2 separate regions of the Homo sapiens genome follow, and region 2 is linked to region 1. Evidence: fine-mapped expression QTL. Tissue or cell type: whole blood. Region 1 holds a variant in brackets; the other region holds the start of a gene. All regions are shown on one strand. Distances are between the middles of the regions.

Region 1 (8,103 bases):
CCCGCGCCTTCCGGGCTGGGGGTGGGGATGCCCGGGACAGACCCCCTCGCAGCCCTCTCCCTCTCCTTCTCCTCCCCTCACCCCTTTCTCCTCCTTCTTCCCTCCCTCCTCCTCTCCAGCTTCCTCCCATCCCCCGCCTCATTCTTCCAAAGGAGCTGCGGAGTCTGACCTGGAGAGGAAGGAGGAGATGGAAGCTGTGATGGGAAGCGTGGGGGCTGGAGTAGGGGAGGTGATGCGGAAGTGACAGGTAGCGGGGCTGTGGAGGGGATGGTGAAGAAGGTGGTAAGGAGTGAAGCGTGAGGGGTTGGGAGGGGAGATGATGGAGGGTGTGATGAGAGGGTGACGAGGAGGGGCCAGGACGGGGAGGCCACGGGGAGGCCAAGGGGTTGGGGCAGGACTGGTCACAGTGGCTCCAAGTGCCCATTCAGGCAGTAGGCAATGGGGTTGAGGTCCCTAACTCTCTCTCCAGTGTGATGTTCTTGGTGCATGGGGGTGCCTGGGGTGCTCCCAGGCCTCCGCCCGCCACCTCTGTCTCTCCCTGGGCCTCCATCCTTCCACCTGGCTCTGGAATCACAACCGGTGGTAGCCAGTCCCCAGGACAGCTCCAGTCCCTTAGATAGTCACCCCCATGAGCCCACCCAGCCTCTGGGTTGACACAGACACCCCCAGCAGCCCCTAGCTGCCTCTGGCTGACATCAACTGAGGACATGGGGCCTGGAACCTGGAAACAGCTACCTCGGGGAATGCTGTTGGTGAGGGCCAGGCTCTGGGTTCCCATCCCAGCTGCTTACTAAGAATCATGGGGTGTGTAGGCCGGGTGTGGTGGCTCACATCTATAATCCCAGCACTTTGGGAGGCTAAGGTGAGTGGATCACCTGAGGTCAGGAGTTCGAGACCAGCCTGGCCAACATGGTAAAACCCCCTCTCTACTAAAAATACAAAAATTAGTGGGCATGGTGGTGGGCGCCTGTAATCCCAGCTACTCGGGAGGCCAAGGCAGGAGAATCACTTGAACCCGGGAGGTGGAGGTAGCAGTGAGCTGAGATTGAGCCATTGCACTCCAGCCTGAGTAACAGAGTGAGACTCCGTCTCAAAAAAAAAAAAAAGAATCGTAGTGGGTGGGGAGATTTGTGACCTTAAGTAAACCACACTCCCTCCCTGAGCCTCTGAGCCTCTGTTTCCTCACCTGTAATATGGACCTGATGATAGTACTGAACTTGTGTGATTGTGGTCACTATTCATTCATTCATCAGGAGTTTCATGAGCACCTACTGTGTGCCAGGCACTGTCCGGGCACTAGGAATGTCACAATCAACAGGACAGACACAGAAGCCCTCAAGGTGCTTCTGTTCTGGGGGTGAGGGGTGGAGTGATGATGGGTGTGATGCAGGAGGCCAGGCGCCAAGGAAGTCCCAGCATATAGGACTGTCCCCTACCTTGGAGCCCAGGAGCTGCCGGGCTAGGAGCTGAGTCTCCTCTAGGTCCCGCATAGTTGTGTCCTTGCTCGGCCACCCTGGCCAAGCGCCTCTCCCTCTCTGGGCTCCTTCCATCATCCCTCTGGAGCTGCTCCAGGCTGCTACTGCTGCCTGCACAGACAGCAGTGGCAGGCCGGTGACGGGGTGCATGAGGGAGTCTGGCGCTGGGCCCTGGAGCTGAGCACCCTGAGATGCAGAACAAAGGACGAGGCAATCAAAGGAGGCTGCCAGGACAGTCCTGCCAGCAGCTGCAGCACAGCCACCTCTTGTCCCGATGACCGACTGGGCCTTTGTCCCCTCCCCCTCCAACTGCAAGCAGAGCACGGTAAGAGGAAGCACAGAGTTTACCTGGAATACCACCTTCCCAGGGCCCTCCCCCTGGCTGGGGTAAGCATTGCCCTCCCCAGCTTCCTCTGTTCTAGGGGGCGAAGGTTCACTTGTTCCAAGGTGTTACTCACCTGGCCCTGTGGAAATGACAGTCAGGGAGCCTGGGTCCAAGGCCTGTCTCTAATTTGCCAGGTGATCTTGCCCAAGTTTCTCTCTGCAGCTCAGCTTACCCATCTACACAAAGGCTGCAAATTCAGATGCTTACAGGGCCTGGGCAACTAATAGAAGTGTGTGCAGTGTCTGGGAAGGCAGAGGTTTTTTAACTGTCTTGCTCTCCAGTGCCTGGTATGCAGCAGGTGCTCAATAAATACTTGAAGGCATGAATGGGGCCAGCATAACTCAGCTCCTGCTCACTGTTGCCAAGGAGGCCAATTGTTGTGGCCCCACCCTTGGATATCTGGGGATTTCTGAAATCTGGACTGGTGTGAATCTGCCCCAATTTTTAAATGTGAGGCCATTTGAGGTGGCTCATGCCTGGAATCCCAGCACTTTGGGAGGCTGAGACAGGAGGATCACTTGAGCACAGGAGTTTAAGACCAGCCTGAGCAATGTAGTGAAACCCCATCTCCACCAAATAAAAACAAAAAAAAAAATAGCTAGACATGATGGCACACACCTGTGATCCCAGCTACTCAGGAGGCTGAGGCTGGAGGATTGCTTGAGACCAGGAGGTGCAGGCTGCAGTGAGTTATCATGGCACCACTGCAATCCACCCTGGGCAACAGAGTGAGATCCTGTCTCAAAAAATAAATAAATAAATAAATACAGGTCACTATTTTTTAAATGTAAATAGCATGTGAACCAGAACAAAACCATATCCGCCCAGCTTGCAGTCTCCAGCCTAGTCATGAGCAGCATTCAGTTAGGTTCATTCAGATGTATTTGGTTATTCATTCATTTATTCATTCATCCAACATTTTGCAAGGACCTACCTCCCTGCACTCCTGACCACAGAGGGATGCCAAGGTGACTGTAAACCAGCCCAGCCTTGGAGGGGCTGCCAGGCCCGAAGGAACACAGACACCTCCGCACCTAGTGAGCTATGTGCTTTGATGGGAGCATTGCAGGCGCAAGGTGCTATGGAGTCCCCAAGGAGCGAGTGGTTTGCCCTAAGGATGGCAGAGAAGATTCCAAGAAGACAGAGTGCTTGTGCTGAGCCAGAAGATTGAGAAAGAACTCAGCAGGGAGGCCAGTGGGGTGGGGTGGGTAGGACACTCTAGACAGATGGAACAGCATATGCAAATACAGAGGCATAACCGCACACACGGTATGTTCAAAAAATAGCTGGAATTTTGGTGTGGTTAGAGTGTGAGGCTGTGCAGACAGCTTGTGATGGGCTTCAGAGGCTACTCTAAGGAGTTTAGACTGATTCCTAAGGGCACTAGGGAGCTATTGATAGCTGTGGAGCAGAGGAGTGACACAGTCCAGCCTTGAGTCTGTGAAAAATCCCCCCGGCGCCATGTGAGAATGCACTGAACATTGCAAAGGGTGGACACTGGGACATGGGGAGGAGGCCCCTGCAACAGTCCAGGCTAGCACTCTGGTGGCATGGGCCAGAGGGCTGACAGTGGAAGTCGGGGAAGTTCAAATCCTGACTAGATTCAATCTTCACTTAGTAGCCCAGTGGCTATGTGACTCTGGACTTCAGGCAAATTGCTTCACCTCTCTGTGCTTCACTCAGTGTTTGTACAAGACAGTGATCGTAATAGTTATCATTATCATATGTTTATTATCATTATTATCATAACAACCTGCCCCAGTCATTTTGTGGCTGAAGAGTTGACTTACACGAAGCATTTAGAACAGCGCCTGGCACATAGTAGGCCCTCTGGGAGTGTTTATTATCATTATTATTTTATTATTATTACAATTATGCCATTTCACAGATGAGAAAGGAGCAGTTTGGAGGGCTCAGGCTGTGGAGGACTGTCCAGCCCTCTGTCCCCTCCCCCTCCACTTCCTGCTTTGCTAGGGATCTGAATCCCCTGCTGGGTGTGTGGGAAGCCAGGTGACCAGAAAGCCCCCCATACAGCCCATGGCGTATGAGTGCCCGCCTCCGCCTGCCAGCAGCCTCCAAGGTGGTAGCCTCTCCGAGTGCCACGCAGCCCTTCAGCCTTCCTTAGGCAGCACTGCAGACCCCCTCTCCTCCCCTTGTCTCCCCACCACCCTGGCCTGGCTTCCAGCAGACCCTGGAGAACCTGGGCCAGCTTCAACCACAAGGAAACCACTAATGGGCCACAGCTTAGCCTGATGAATCCCAGAGGAGAGTTTGGAGGGAAACAGAACACTGCGGGATTATTGATCATGGGGCAGGAGCTGGTGAGGCAGCCTGGATCCACAGGCTGCAGCTCGAATCCCAGCCCAGCCGGTGCCCCCAGCCAGACTTCCACGTCTTCTTAGGGAGCCTCAGTCTCCCCATCTGTCCGATGGGGCTAATATTAGCACACACACCCCTGGGGCTGCTGTGAGGACTGGGAGATGATGTGTGTGAGCCCCTAGCACAGTTGCTGGCACTGCGGAGCATTCGGTAAGGTGTTGGGTGCCGCTGTTGTCCTTGTTGTAGGAGACAGGTGAGCAGCCATGCAGATGCCAGCTAAGGGGCTATTCCAGAAGGTCACATAGCAATCCAGGGTTGGAACCTCAGCCATGTCACTTACTTACCATGCAACCGCTGTGCCTCAGTTTCCTCCCCCAGAACATGGGCTCATGAGACTAAGTCAGAGGGAACAGCAAATGAAGCAAGGTGGCCTTGTGTAGGCTCCAGCTGGACCACTCACAGATGGCATCCGGTGTGCTCCTAACTGCTCCGTGCCTCTGTTTTCTCGCCTCTAAAATGGGGCAATAACACCCCCACCTCCTAGGGGTGCTAAACACACTCTTTCGCTTGAATGAGCTAAACACAGCCTGGGGCAGAAAAGTGTGCTCTCTGAGTGTGGATGGCTGTTAGTATTATGACTTCTG[G/A]GTTGGTGAAGGATTCAGTGAAGTCTCTGACTGGGGCCCAGCCACTGCCCAACCCCCGGTCACAGGCCTCAGCCTGTGGTGGGACTCCCCCAGCCTGACAGGATGTCCCATGACCGCCTCCCACGTGCCCCCTTCCCGTCAGGGTCTGGGTGCCCCCAAACTGAGATCACTTCCCTCCGGGAAGCCACCCCCAAAGGGAGGGGTTCCCTGCTGGGCCTTGAAGCTGGCCCAGCCCAGAGAGGAACCGTTTAGAGGCTGAGGGACCAGCAGGAGGAAGGCTCGGGGGCTCAGAACCCTCCCCCTTCTCCATGGAGTCAGCTGCTTCTTAAGGCCAAGAGGTGGGGGCTGAGGCACCCACATACCCACCTCTAGGCAGTGGGTTCAGATCGGGACCATGCTCTAGGGCAGAAACCTCACACGGCTAAACAACGGAAAGTAAAGCTGAAGTAGTGAGCTCTCCATCGCTGGAAGTATCCTAGGCTGTGCTACCACTTGGTGAGGTTGAACCCCATGGAACCAGTCCAACCTGGGCCTGCCTTTACTCCACGAGTGTGGCATCATTCCCAGCCCTCTGCTCTCACCCTCCCAAGAGTTCACCTCTCCGGGCCTCAGTTTCCTCATCTGTAAAATGGAAATAGTCCTGGTCCCTCCCTGGAAGCAATGGTGTGAGGATGGAATGAGTGAGTGCAAGGAGAGTGCTGAGTGCAGCATGTGCCATACAGTAGGTGCTCAATAAATGCTAGCCTTGGTTTCCCTGATTCTCCATGATGGTCTCAGCCTCCAGGTTTCCAGCTTCCCTTTCTTTTCATCTCTCAAGCTCGTTCTATCTCTGACTCCAGCTCTCTTGGTATCTGCCTCAGTTTCCCATGTTGGCCTTGGCCTGTCTCTGACAGTCTCTTTGATCATGTATGTCTCTCTCTGTCTCTCTCCATCCTGCTGTCACCCTGTCTCTGCCCCAGGCATGAAGCAGTCACTGGCAGCTGTGGCTGTGGCCGCCCCCACACCCGGTCTCAGGGGCCCAGCTTGTGCAGTCCTCCAGCTGACACTGACCAAAGCCCCTTTCTCCAGTTCAGCTGGAAGAAGCCTGGAATTTTTCTGCCAAACATTTTTAAGCAACTAGGGAGGAGAGAGAAGGGGAAGACAACAAAGGCAGAGACACAAAAACAGGCCGAGGCAGAGGCACGGAGCCCATGTTTGTCACAGGCCCCTAACTGCCTGGGGGACGCAGACCCTGTGGCCAGCACAGCAGGGTGCCCTGAAGGCCAGAGTGGGGTGTGGTCTGCTCTGGGCCACCAGCCTGAGGCCCAGCCTCTTTCCCAGGCTGAAGAAACTCCAGCCCCTTCTTAGACCCATTGTTCTGGCTGAAAATCTAGGCCATGGCCACTGCGGAGGAGAAGGAGCATTTCCACCACTGCTCCCTTAGAAATCTTGAGATCGAAGTCCAGGCAGGTCACCAAGGAACCAGCTGCCCACCCCCTCGGCCTGGTCCATGGCCAGCCTGGGCCGGAGAGGCGGACGGATGGGCAGGCGGGCAGCGGCGGGCGCTGCGGGGTGCAGGGCCCAGCGGGGAGGACAGCAGCTGCCCTAATTACTCCTGCTCTCCAGGTTCCAATCTTGTTTCAAAAGGACTCCAGGGACACAGCCTTTAATAACTACCAGTAAACAGGCAGGAAAATCGATACCTGGTAAATAGAGCCCTGGAGAGAGGGAGGCCTGGGCTAGCTGGCCCTGACGGGCTCCCAGAGTCCTTTGCTGCAGAGCTGGCCAACGCTGATGTTGAGAATCCTCCTCCTGGCCTGAGGGTCCTCCCCAGGGACCCCTCGAAGCTTGGCCTCCACCCTGGGGGCTGCTTGCTCTCCAATCTCCACTCCCTCTCCATCAAGCCCAGATTTTCCTCTTTCCCACTCCTCCAAGTGCCAAGTAGGTTGCCCGTCTCGCTTGCAGATGTCTTCTTTGCACCAGGCTTTGTGCCTGGTGCTCCAAACATAGTTGCATATCTGACCTAGTAGTCTTTGTCCTCCCAAAAGTGATCTACCAATGAGGATGACTAAGAACAAAAACAAATAATGACAGTGTGAGGACAGACATGCAATAAAAGACTGCTGCGTTTGCCAACTATAGCAACAGAACAGAGAAGCCCATGTTGGAGGAGATGAGCACATGGAGGGCTTTGCTGGATGAATAGGAGTTTGCCAAGTGAACAAGGGCTGGGGGAGGATGAATGTGGGTAACATATGTAATATCAGCCATTGTAGCTGTATTCATTGAGTGCTTACTAAATGCTAAGTGTTCTGCTAAGCACCTTTGCCTATACGTTATCTCATTTTGTTTCCCCAGTAATTCTTTGGGGTAGATATTAATACCCCCATTTTATAGATAAGGGCACTGAGGCTATGTGTGGTACCAGCCAGGATTTGCACAAGACCTGAGAGATTTTCTTTTTTTTTTTTTTTTTTTTTTTTTGAGACAGAGTCTTGCTTTGTCGCCCAGGCTGGAGTGCAATGGTGTGATCTCAGCTCACTGCAACCTCTGCCTCCTGGGTTCAAGCGATTCTCATGCCTTAGCCTCCTGAGTAACTGGGATTACAGGCACGTACCACCACGCCTGGCTAATGTTTGTATTTTTTAGTAGAGATCGGGGGTTTCACCATGTGGGCCAGGCTGGTCCCGAATTCCTGACCTCAGATGATCCACCCGCCTCAGCTTCCCAAAGTGTTGGGATTACAGGCATGAGCCACTGCACCTGGCTCGACCCGAGAGACTTCTGAGTTGCTTGAATCACTTCACTCTGCACCTCCTATCCCGGCCCCTCCCCTGCCGAGCTCAGGATTTGGCACACAGGGGAAGTTAAATAAGGCGGGTTCCCATTGCTTCCCTTCCTATCCTGCACATTTTTCAGGTAATACACTGCCTTCACCTCACCAGGAGCTGAATGGTGGTACTTCAGGCACATCAGCCTTGAAGATCAGTCATCACAACCCCTCATTTTGCAGGTGGGGAAACTGAGGCCCTGAGAGGGGAAGACCAGCACACAAGAGCAGGTGGGAGCAGGATCCAGGGTTTTCTCTCTAACTCACCTCCTCCCGGGCCTACTGTGGAGGAAGCCCCATCACCAGGGAAGAAATCAATCTGCACACACTCAATTAAAATGATAAATCAGGCATCAGAGTGAGGCTGCCCCAGAGATGCAGGGGAAGTTTTTGTCTGATTGGCTGGAACATGGTAGGTGCCCAGGGACCTTATTTCCTGGGGCTGGGCTGCCAGTCCAACCTCTCCACCTC
Region 2 (8,103 bases), 130 kb before region 1:
CATCTTCTCTCGTTAGAATATAAATTCCATGAGAGCAGAGGCCTTTTCACTTATTCACCACACATGTTCTGTGCTAGACCAGTGGCTACCATAAAGAAAACACTGAATAAATATTTATTTATTTATTTATTTATTTTATTTTTGAGCCAGAGTTTCACTCTTGTCATCCAGCCTAGAGTGCAATGGTGTGATCTTGGCTCACTGCAACCATTGCCTCCTGGGTTCAAGTGATTCTCCTGACTCAGACTCCTGAGTACCTGGGATTACAGGTGCCTGCCACCATACTCAGCTAATTTTTGTATGTTTAGTAGAGACGGGGTTTCACCATGTTGGCCAGGCCAGTCTCGAACTCCTGACCTCAGGTCATCCACCTGCTTTGGCCTCCCAAAGTGCTGGGATTACAGGCGTGAGCCACCGCACCTGGCCTTAATAAATATTTATAAGAATAAGGAAAGGATCTGTTTTCCACATCTCATAAGTTGTCTTTTATACCTTTCTTTTCTATGTTCTGCTTTCCTGTAATCTCGAGTAATTTCCTCCATTCCATCTTCCAGTTTACTGATTTTATCTTCAGGTATATTTATTCAGCCTATCTATGGAGAAGGTTCGGTTTTTCTGTTCATCTTTGGTTTTATTTTGCATTATGTTTTCACTTCCAATGTGATAGTGGTGATTGTTGACTTTCATCACTGTTCTTATTTCATGGATATGATGAATAATCATGAATACAATGAATAATTATAATGGATATAATATCTAATCCCTCTGAGGATATTAATTATATATTTCTAAGACCGTATTAGTCCAATTTGTACTTCTAAAACAGAAAGCCACAGACTGGGAAATTAGTAAAGAACAGAAATTTACTTATCACAGTTCTGGAGGCTGAGAAGTGCAAGACCAAGGCTTCAGCAGGTTAGGACCTGGTCTCTATGCTTCCAAGATGGCGCCTTGAAGAATGTTGTGTCTTTTGGAGGGGAGGAACACTATGTCCTCACATGGCAGAAAAGCAGAAGACAATGAGCCCATTCCTCCAAGCTCTTTTCACAGTGGCCATAATCCACTCACGTGGGCAGAGCCCTCATGACACAAACACCTCCTGTTAGACCCCACTTCCCAACTGCTGCATTGGGGAGTAAGTTTCCAACACATGAATTCTGGGGGACAAATTTAGACCACAGAAGACTCTTTCTCCTTTATTGATTATTTCAGTGTCCTTACATGTGAGTTTTTATGTTCATAGCATTGGATCTCCCAAAATAATTTGGCACCTTTGGATGTGTGCTTTTTGCTCACTGGGGATGTTCTGCTTGTCTCCCTGTGAAGTTGGTACCTTCTTACTGCAGCTGGAGGCAGAGATGAGGAAAGGGGATGTGCCAGGAATGAGTCTTCTGCATACAGGACTTCCTGTTCTTTCCAGATGTGGCCAGGTATGCTGTGTACTTCCCTGCCTCTCTGCCCCACCCTCACTGCTCCCTCCTTAGGCAGGCACCTCTGCTGCCTGTTACTCAACACAGAAAGGTTGGGGCGGGAGACCACATGTCTTTAGAGGCTGCCATTACTATGCCAGCACAACTGACAACCATGAGAGTTAACCTAGGGTCCCTTCTTTTCCTTCAATCCACTGCCTGGAGCCTGCAGCTCCTCAGAGCCTTTCCACTCTGCATAGGTACCCCCTCCTTTATGTGTTTTGGCTGCAATTTCCTCCTTCATCCAGTCTCATATCTCTGACAGGGATCTCAGATTCCAGTTTACCTGGGACACCTCTGGTTAGGACCCAGCAACATTATTAAAGTTTTTCTATCGCTTTCCTGCCACCTCTAGAGGCCTGGGATGGACGTTGAAGGCTTATGCATATGTTCAGTCCACCATCATGACCCAATATTGACCCTTCTGCGTTCCATCTTCTAAAAATGCCTCAAATGTCCCGCCCCCTTGACTCCACTTTTTCTCAGTTTCCAACCCTGTTGATTTCCATTATGCTTTTAATATATCTTTGCTGCTATTTTAATAGAATTTTGAGCATGTGTTCAATCCACTATCTTGAATGGAAAGTTTCTAAAGTGGCCTGTGACTCAGGAAGAAGACTGTGATTAATGGGCGAGAATGAAAATCATTGCTCAATCCCTTGACTTAAATCCCCACCACAACACCTGACCTACAAAACCTGCCCATACTTGAATATTCCAAGTGATGCAGCATTCACTACTCAAAATATTAGCTGGTGTACATATTACAGACCCAGCATCTCTCCCTCTAGTTGACCATGACCTCTGAAATTCACACTCTGATCCTATCTATTTCCTTTCAGTTACCGTGCAGATGTCAGGAAGCACTTGTTAAGACTATTACCTGAAGTGTACTCAGAGGCAGAGTAAATGCTGGGTCCCGGAGCAGACAGGAGAGAGGACCTGGGAGTTTTTTAGTAAGATGGGGAGGAGGAGATAGGCTATGGCTTGGACCAGGCCTGGAAGAGAGCTCAGGTGTGCAGTCTCTAGGAACCCGGGTGGAGAAGCAGCAGGAAATAAGCAGAAAAAGGAGACAGGCCATGAAGATAGAAGCGCAATGGTCCTGGATTCAAATCTCCACTCTGCAGCTTATAGCTTACAGTCCGCTTAGCTTTGTGCCCATTCCAAGAGGATTTCCCTATTGTAGCTTTACAATGTTTTAATATGTAGTATTGTTGTGCAAGGTACCATCCTAAACTGACTGACTTTCCTTCCTCCTTCTCCTCCAAAATAATTTTTAATTCTTGCAGACAGACTTTAGATCGTGTGTTTGAAGTTTTTAAAGATGGAATTTTTATTGGAACTGCATTACACGTATAAATTATTTAGGAAGAGTTGGCTTCTGAAGAGGGCAGCTCTGTGGGCTTGGGCTGGGTTTGAATCCAGCCAGACAACTTTCCAGCTGTGTTACCTTGGACAGTTACCTAGTTCCTCTGTACCTTGACTTCCTCATCTGTCAAATGGGTGATGATAATAGCACCTACACCATGGTCGTTGGGAGGAGTCAGTGAGAGTCTCCAAGTGTGCTTTATTATCGTTGGTGGTGGTAGTGGTGTTTAGAACGCATCCCTCAGTCAGACAGCGAGGTAGGACTTCTCCGTTTATTAAATCCTGACCTTTTTTTTCCATGTAAAACCTGCACGTTTCTGAAATGCTCAGAGTACGTTACTCAGTATGTACCCATATGTTCTGTGGGTATACTTTGTTAGGTTGTGATTAGTTCGTTGGAGCTGGTGGTTGCAGGGACGGCTGGAAGCAAGGAGATGAAGGAGAGGAAGTCGTAGCTGGGAAGGGGACCAGGAAGTGGGTGTCAGGTCCAAGAGCTGCTAGAAAGAAACGAAACTGAAAGCAGGGAATTTCCCAAGTTTGGGGAAGACAGGAACTGCAGCGCCCCTCCCCGTTTCACGCCACGCGCGGGACCGAGGACCTAGGACCTGGCCAGCTGGGCGTGGTTCGGAGAGCCGGGCGGGAAAACGAAACCAGAAATCCGAAGGCCGCGCCAGAGCCCTGCTTCCCCTTGCACCTGCGCCGGGCGGCCATGGACTTGTACAGCACCCCGGCCGCTGCGCTGGACAGGTTCGTGGCCAGAAGGCTGCAGCCGCGGAAGGAGTTCGTAGAGAAGGCGCGGCGCGCTCTGGGCGCCCTGGCCGCTGCCCTGAGGGAGCGCGGGGGCCGCCTCGGTGCTGCTGCCCCGCGGGTGCTGAAAACTGTCAAGGTGAGGTCCCACCTCGGGGTCTTTATGTGTCCAAAGGGGAGTCCTGGGAGGACGCTTAAGCCTCACATAGGCTTACGGTGGGGGTGGCTTTATCCGCTTGTGCACCTCATTCATTTCTTTAACAAATACTTCCAATGTGCCAGCCCCGTGCTAACTCCCCCGAACATACGAGCCAGGTAGGTACTCTTAAGCCCGCTTGACAGATAGAGAAAATGAGGCACAGAGAGGTACAGTGACGTGTCCGATCCTGTAAGAGGCCCAGCCAGGATTCAAATCCAAGTAGCCTGATTCCTGCATCTCTACTCTCAGAGGCTGCTTCTTATCCATTCATTCACTCATTCACTCATTCTCCCAGTCATTCAAACAGACTGTGGGCCTCACACTATGCCAGACCTTAAGGTTACAGAAGTAATAACACTCCGCGTAACAGCCAGAGTAGCCCAATTTATTGAGACATTATCAAATAACAATGAAAATTATCTCATTAAATGAGTATTACCTCATTTCATCCCCACGTTCAGTGAGGCAGGTATTATTGTACCTGTTTTATGGATAGGGAAACTGAGGCTAGACGCTAAATTACTACTCTGAGTCACATCTTTTTTTTTTTTTTTTTTTTTTTTTTTTTTTGAGACAGGGTCTCGCTCTGTCACCCAGGCTGGAGTGCAGTAGCATGATCTTGGCTCACAGCAACCTCCGCCTCCTGGGCTCAAGTTATTCTCACACCTCAGCCTCCCAAGTAGCTGGCACTACAGGTGCACACTACCATGCCTGGCTAATTATTTGCATTTTTTGTAGAGATAGAGTTTTGCCGTGTTGCCCAGGCTGGCCTGGAACTCCTGGGCTCAAGTGATCCACTTGCCTTGGCCTTTCAAAGTGCTGGGATTACAGGTGTGAGCCACCATGCCCAGGTAATTTTTGCATTTTTTGTAGAGACGGGATTTCACCATGTTGCCCAGGCTCCGGGTCACTTTTTGTCACTTAAATACAGCCACACTGCCACTGTGATCCCAGGACACTCGCAGATTCAGGGAGGAGACAAGTCATGAGCTACCTTATCCTCAGGGTAGATTTGGGGGTGCCAGGAGTGGATTGATGGAGGGAACCTGGGTGTGCTAGAGGAGGTTGTCAGGAGAGGGAGTGAAAACGCAGAGTAGAAATGGCCTCAGAGCACCTAGTGGTTTCCTGGGGCTGACTCTCAGCTTGGGAGGTGGGGAAGGAGGAGACACTTGTCGCCTAGGAGGTGTGAAGTCCCGTTTCTACCTTGGAGATGGACAGGAGGGATTTCTGTGCAGCAAGGGAAAGCCCTGGCATCCTTAGCTTCCCTGGAAAGGGGTGGGAGGGGGTTCTGGAGCACAATCTCCCTGTGCTTTCATTGTCTCCTTTGTAAAGTGAGCACGGTGCAATCTCCCTGTGCTTTCGTTTCCTCTTTTGTAAAGTGGTACCTTCCTTCTGGGGCTGTGAGGAAGGTTCAATGAGATGAGAGTGTGCAAAACGTGCAGGAAGTGCCCAGCCTGTAATATTCCCTGTTCCCACTTTGTCAGCAGCCCCCAGATGGTGGGAGCTGGTAGTAAAAGGACTGGCATAATCATCGGGATAAGTAGGGGGTCCCAGTTTGAGGCAAGCCTTGCTCCTGGAGGGCTCCATCCTGGTTCTTGCTGTTTACTGGCTGTGTAACTCATTTCACCATCTGAGCCTCACTCCCCATATCTGCAGCCACATGTAACTACATCACAGTTGTTTTGTGTTGGAAGTGAGATTAGAGACGTCAGATCCCAGACACAGAACAGTGGCTCTGACAATGTTTAGGAGTTTCTTTTCCAAATCCTCAGGTTGGAAGCTTTGCCGAAAGAAACACTAATCACACAGGTCTCAGAAATTGAGTCATACCACAGTTCTGTACCCATTCTGAGCAAAGATTGCAAATGTGTGTTCTGCAAAGCAGAATTTGTTTTACCTGCGGTCTTGAGTTTTTAAAAAGTTAGTTGCCAACATTTAAAAATCATGGATATAGGCCTGGCATGGTGGTTCATGCCTGTAATCCCAGCACTTTGGGAGGCCAACGAGGGCAGATCACTTGAGGTCAGGAATTCGAGACCAGTCTGGCCAACATGGTGAAACCCCATCTCTACTAAAAATACAAAAATTAGCCAGGCATGGTGGCGCACACCTGTAGTCCCAGCTACTCAGGAGGCTCAGGTGGGAAAATCACTTGAACTCATGAGATGGAGGTTGCAGTGAGCTGAGATGGTGCCACTGCACTCCAGCCTAGGCAACAGAGTAAGTCTCTGTCTCAAAACTAAAAATAAAAATAAAATTACAAGTATGGATTTAGCCCAGCACGGTGGTGCATGCCTATAGTCTCAGACACTTGGGAGGCTGAGGCAAGAAGATCACTCGAGCCCAGGAATTCCAAGCTGCAGTGAGCTACAATCGTGTCTGTGAATAGCCACTGCACTCCAGCCTGGGCAACATAGCAAGACCCCATCTCTTTAAAAAAATGTAAAAACTAGCCAGGCATGGTAGCGTGTGCCTGTAGTCTCAACTACTTGAGAGGCTGAGGCAGGAGGATCACTCGAGCCCAGGAGTTCAAGGCCGCAGTGAGCTATGTGTTCCAGCCTGGGTGACAGAACAAGACCCTGTTTCTATGGAAAAAAAATCATGAGTTTACATGTTAAAATTGCTTCTCTTGAAATCTCGAGCCTGGCTACCCTGGGCCCACATTCCCGCGTGGCTTCAATGCCTACAGCCATGTGGCCACAGTCTCTCCCCAGCACACTTGCCTCACTCAAGTTGCCTGCCAGGTTGCAAGGCCACTAGAATTGGACAGTATGAAATTCTGAGTTATTTTTCTTTGCCCAGGGAGGCTCCTCGGGCCGGGGCACAGCTCTCAAGGGTGGCTGTGATTCTGAACTTGTCATCTTCCTCGACTGCTTCAAGAGCTATGTGGACCAGAGGGCCCGCCGTGCAGAGATCCTCAGTGAGATGCGGGCATCGCTGGAATCCTGGTGGCAGAACCCAGTCCCTGGTCTGAGACTCACGTTTCCTGAGCAGAGCGTGCCTGGGGCCCTGCAGTTCCGCCTGACATCCGTAGATCTTGAGGACTGGATGGATGTTAGCCTGGTGCCTGCCTTCAATGTCCTGGGTGAGGGGTTCCTAGACCATTCCAGGGTTGGGGGCAAAAGATCATTGGGAACAACACAGGACTTCCAATTCTAGCCCAGCCACCAACTTGCTGTTTGACCTGGGCCAGCCTCTACCCCTCTCTCAGCCTCAGTCTGGGGACTAAACATATTGGACTTGTGCCAGACAAAGGCAGAGAAACCCCAGTTCCTCCTGGATCTGTGGTCCTGCTGTCAAGATGCTTGGCCCTCCCACAGGCATCTGGGAGTTTCCCTCAGCCACTGCCTGGAGCGGTTACTGCTCAGCCCTTCCACAAATACTCCCGAAAGCTAAGCCAAGTGGACATGTGGCTAGCAGTAGGGGCCTGGGGACGAAACCAGAATTCTGCAAAATCTTGTATTTTATGTTGAAAACATCAATGTGATTTTTGTGTTCTCCTTCGTAATACACGTATGCTTGAGTTAAGATAAAAATAGGCCTCTGTGTCCTCATCTGTAAAATGAGGATAATACTAATGGGGATAATAGTAATCTTATAGAGTTGTCAGAAGAATTAAATGCATTAATATATGTAATCAAGCTTAGAAGTGTGTCTAGTGGGCCAGGCGCAGTGGCTCATGCCTGTAATCCCAGCTTCGGGAGGCCAAGTTAGAGACTGCTTGAGCCCAGGAGTTCAAGATCAGCCTTGGCAAAATAGCAAGATCTAGTCTCTACAAATAATAATAATTTTAAAAAATAGCCAGGTGTAGTAGTACATGCCTCCCTCTGATCCCAGCTACTGGAGAGGCTGAGGTGGGAGGATTGTTTGAGCCCAGGCAGTGGAGGCTGCAGTGAATTGTGATTTTGCCACTACAATCTGTCTGAGTAAGACTCTTCTTAAAAAAAAAAAAGAAATAAGAATGTCTAGCATGTGATAAGGGTTGTAAGAGTGTTTACTATTATTATTATTTCTATTATTGTTGTTGTTTCTATTATTATTGTTATTATTATTATTATTATTATTTACCTTGATGATCTGGGGGATAGCTTTATCCTTTGGGCAGATAGCCACATCCCCTATGCCTGGTACCCTAAGCCTAGTGTACCCACATACTGGGTACACACACACACACGCACACACATTTTTAAGACAGGGTCTCACTCTGTCACCCAGGTTGGAGTGTGGTGGCATGATCTTGGCTCACTGCAACCTCCGTCCTGGGTTCAAGCAATCCTCCCACCTCAGCCTCCCGAGTAGCTGGGCTACAGGCATGCACCA

The links. PIP is the estimated chance that this variant, and not a neighbour inherited with it, causes the effect.
Region 2: OAS3 starts here. The variant in region 1 is fine-mapped to the expression of OAS3 in whole blood (TOPMed, PIP above 0.99).

Annotation. Positions count from the first base shown.
Region 1 is chr12:113,065,436-113,073,538 of GRCh38, forward strand. The region is part of intron 2 of DTX1 (deltex E3 ubiquitin ligase 1); the gene reads left to right. Among named protein-coding and RNA genes, the nearest start is that of DTX1, 13 kb to the left of the region's middle. RefSeq lists enhancers at 1-391, 1,633-2,133 and a silencer at 1-76. The variant G/A (reference allele first, on the strand shown) is at 4,824.
Region 2 is chr12:112,934,985-112,943,087 of GRCh38, forward strand. OAS3 (2'-5'-oligoadenylate synthetase 3) reads left to right here and starts at 3,490. Exons shown (of 16, transcript NM_006187.4): 1 at 3,490-3,723; 2 at 6,586-6,868. The coding sequence starts at 3,547. RefSeq lists enhancers at 1,143-1,312, 3,109-3,278, 3,173-3,482, 3,446-3,615, 4,039-4,208 and 1 more and a silencer at 3,703-3,792.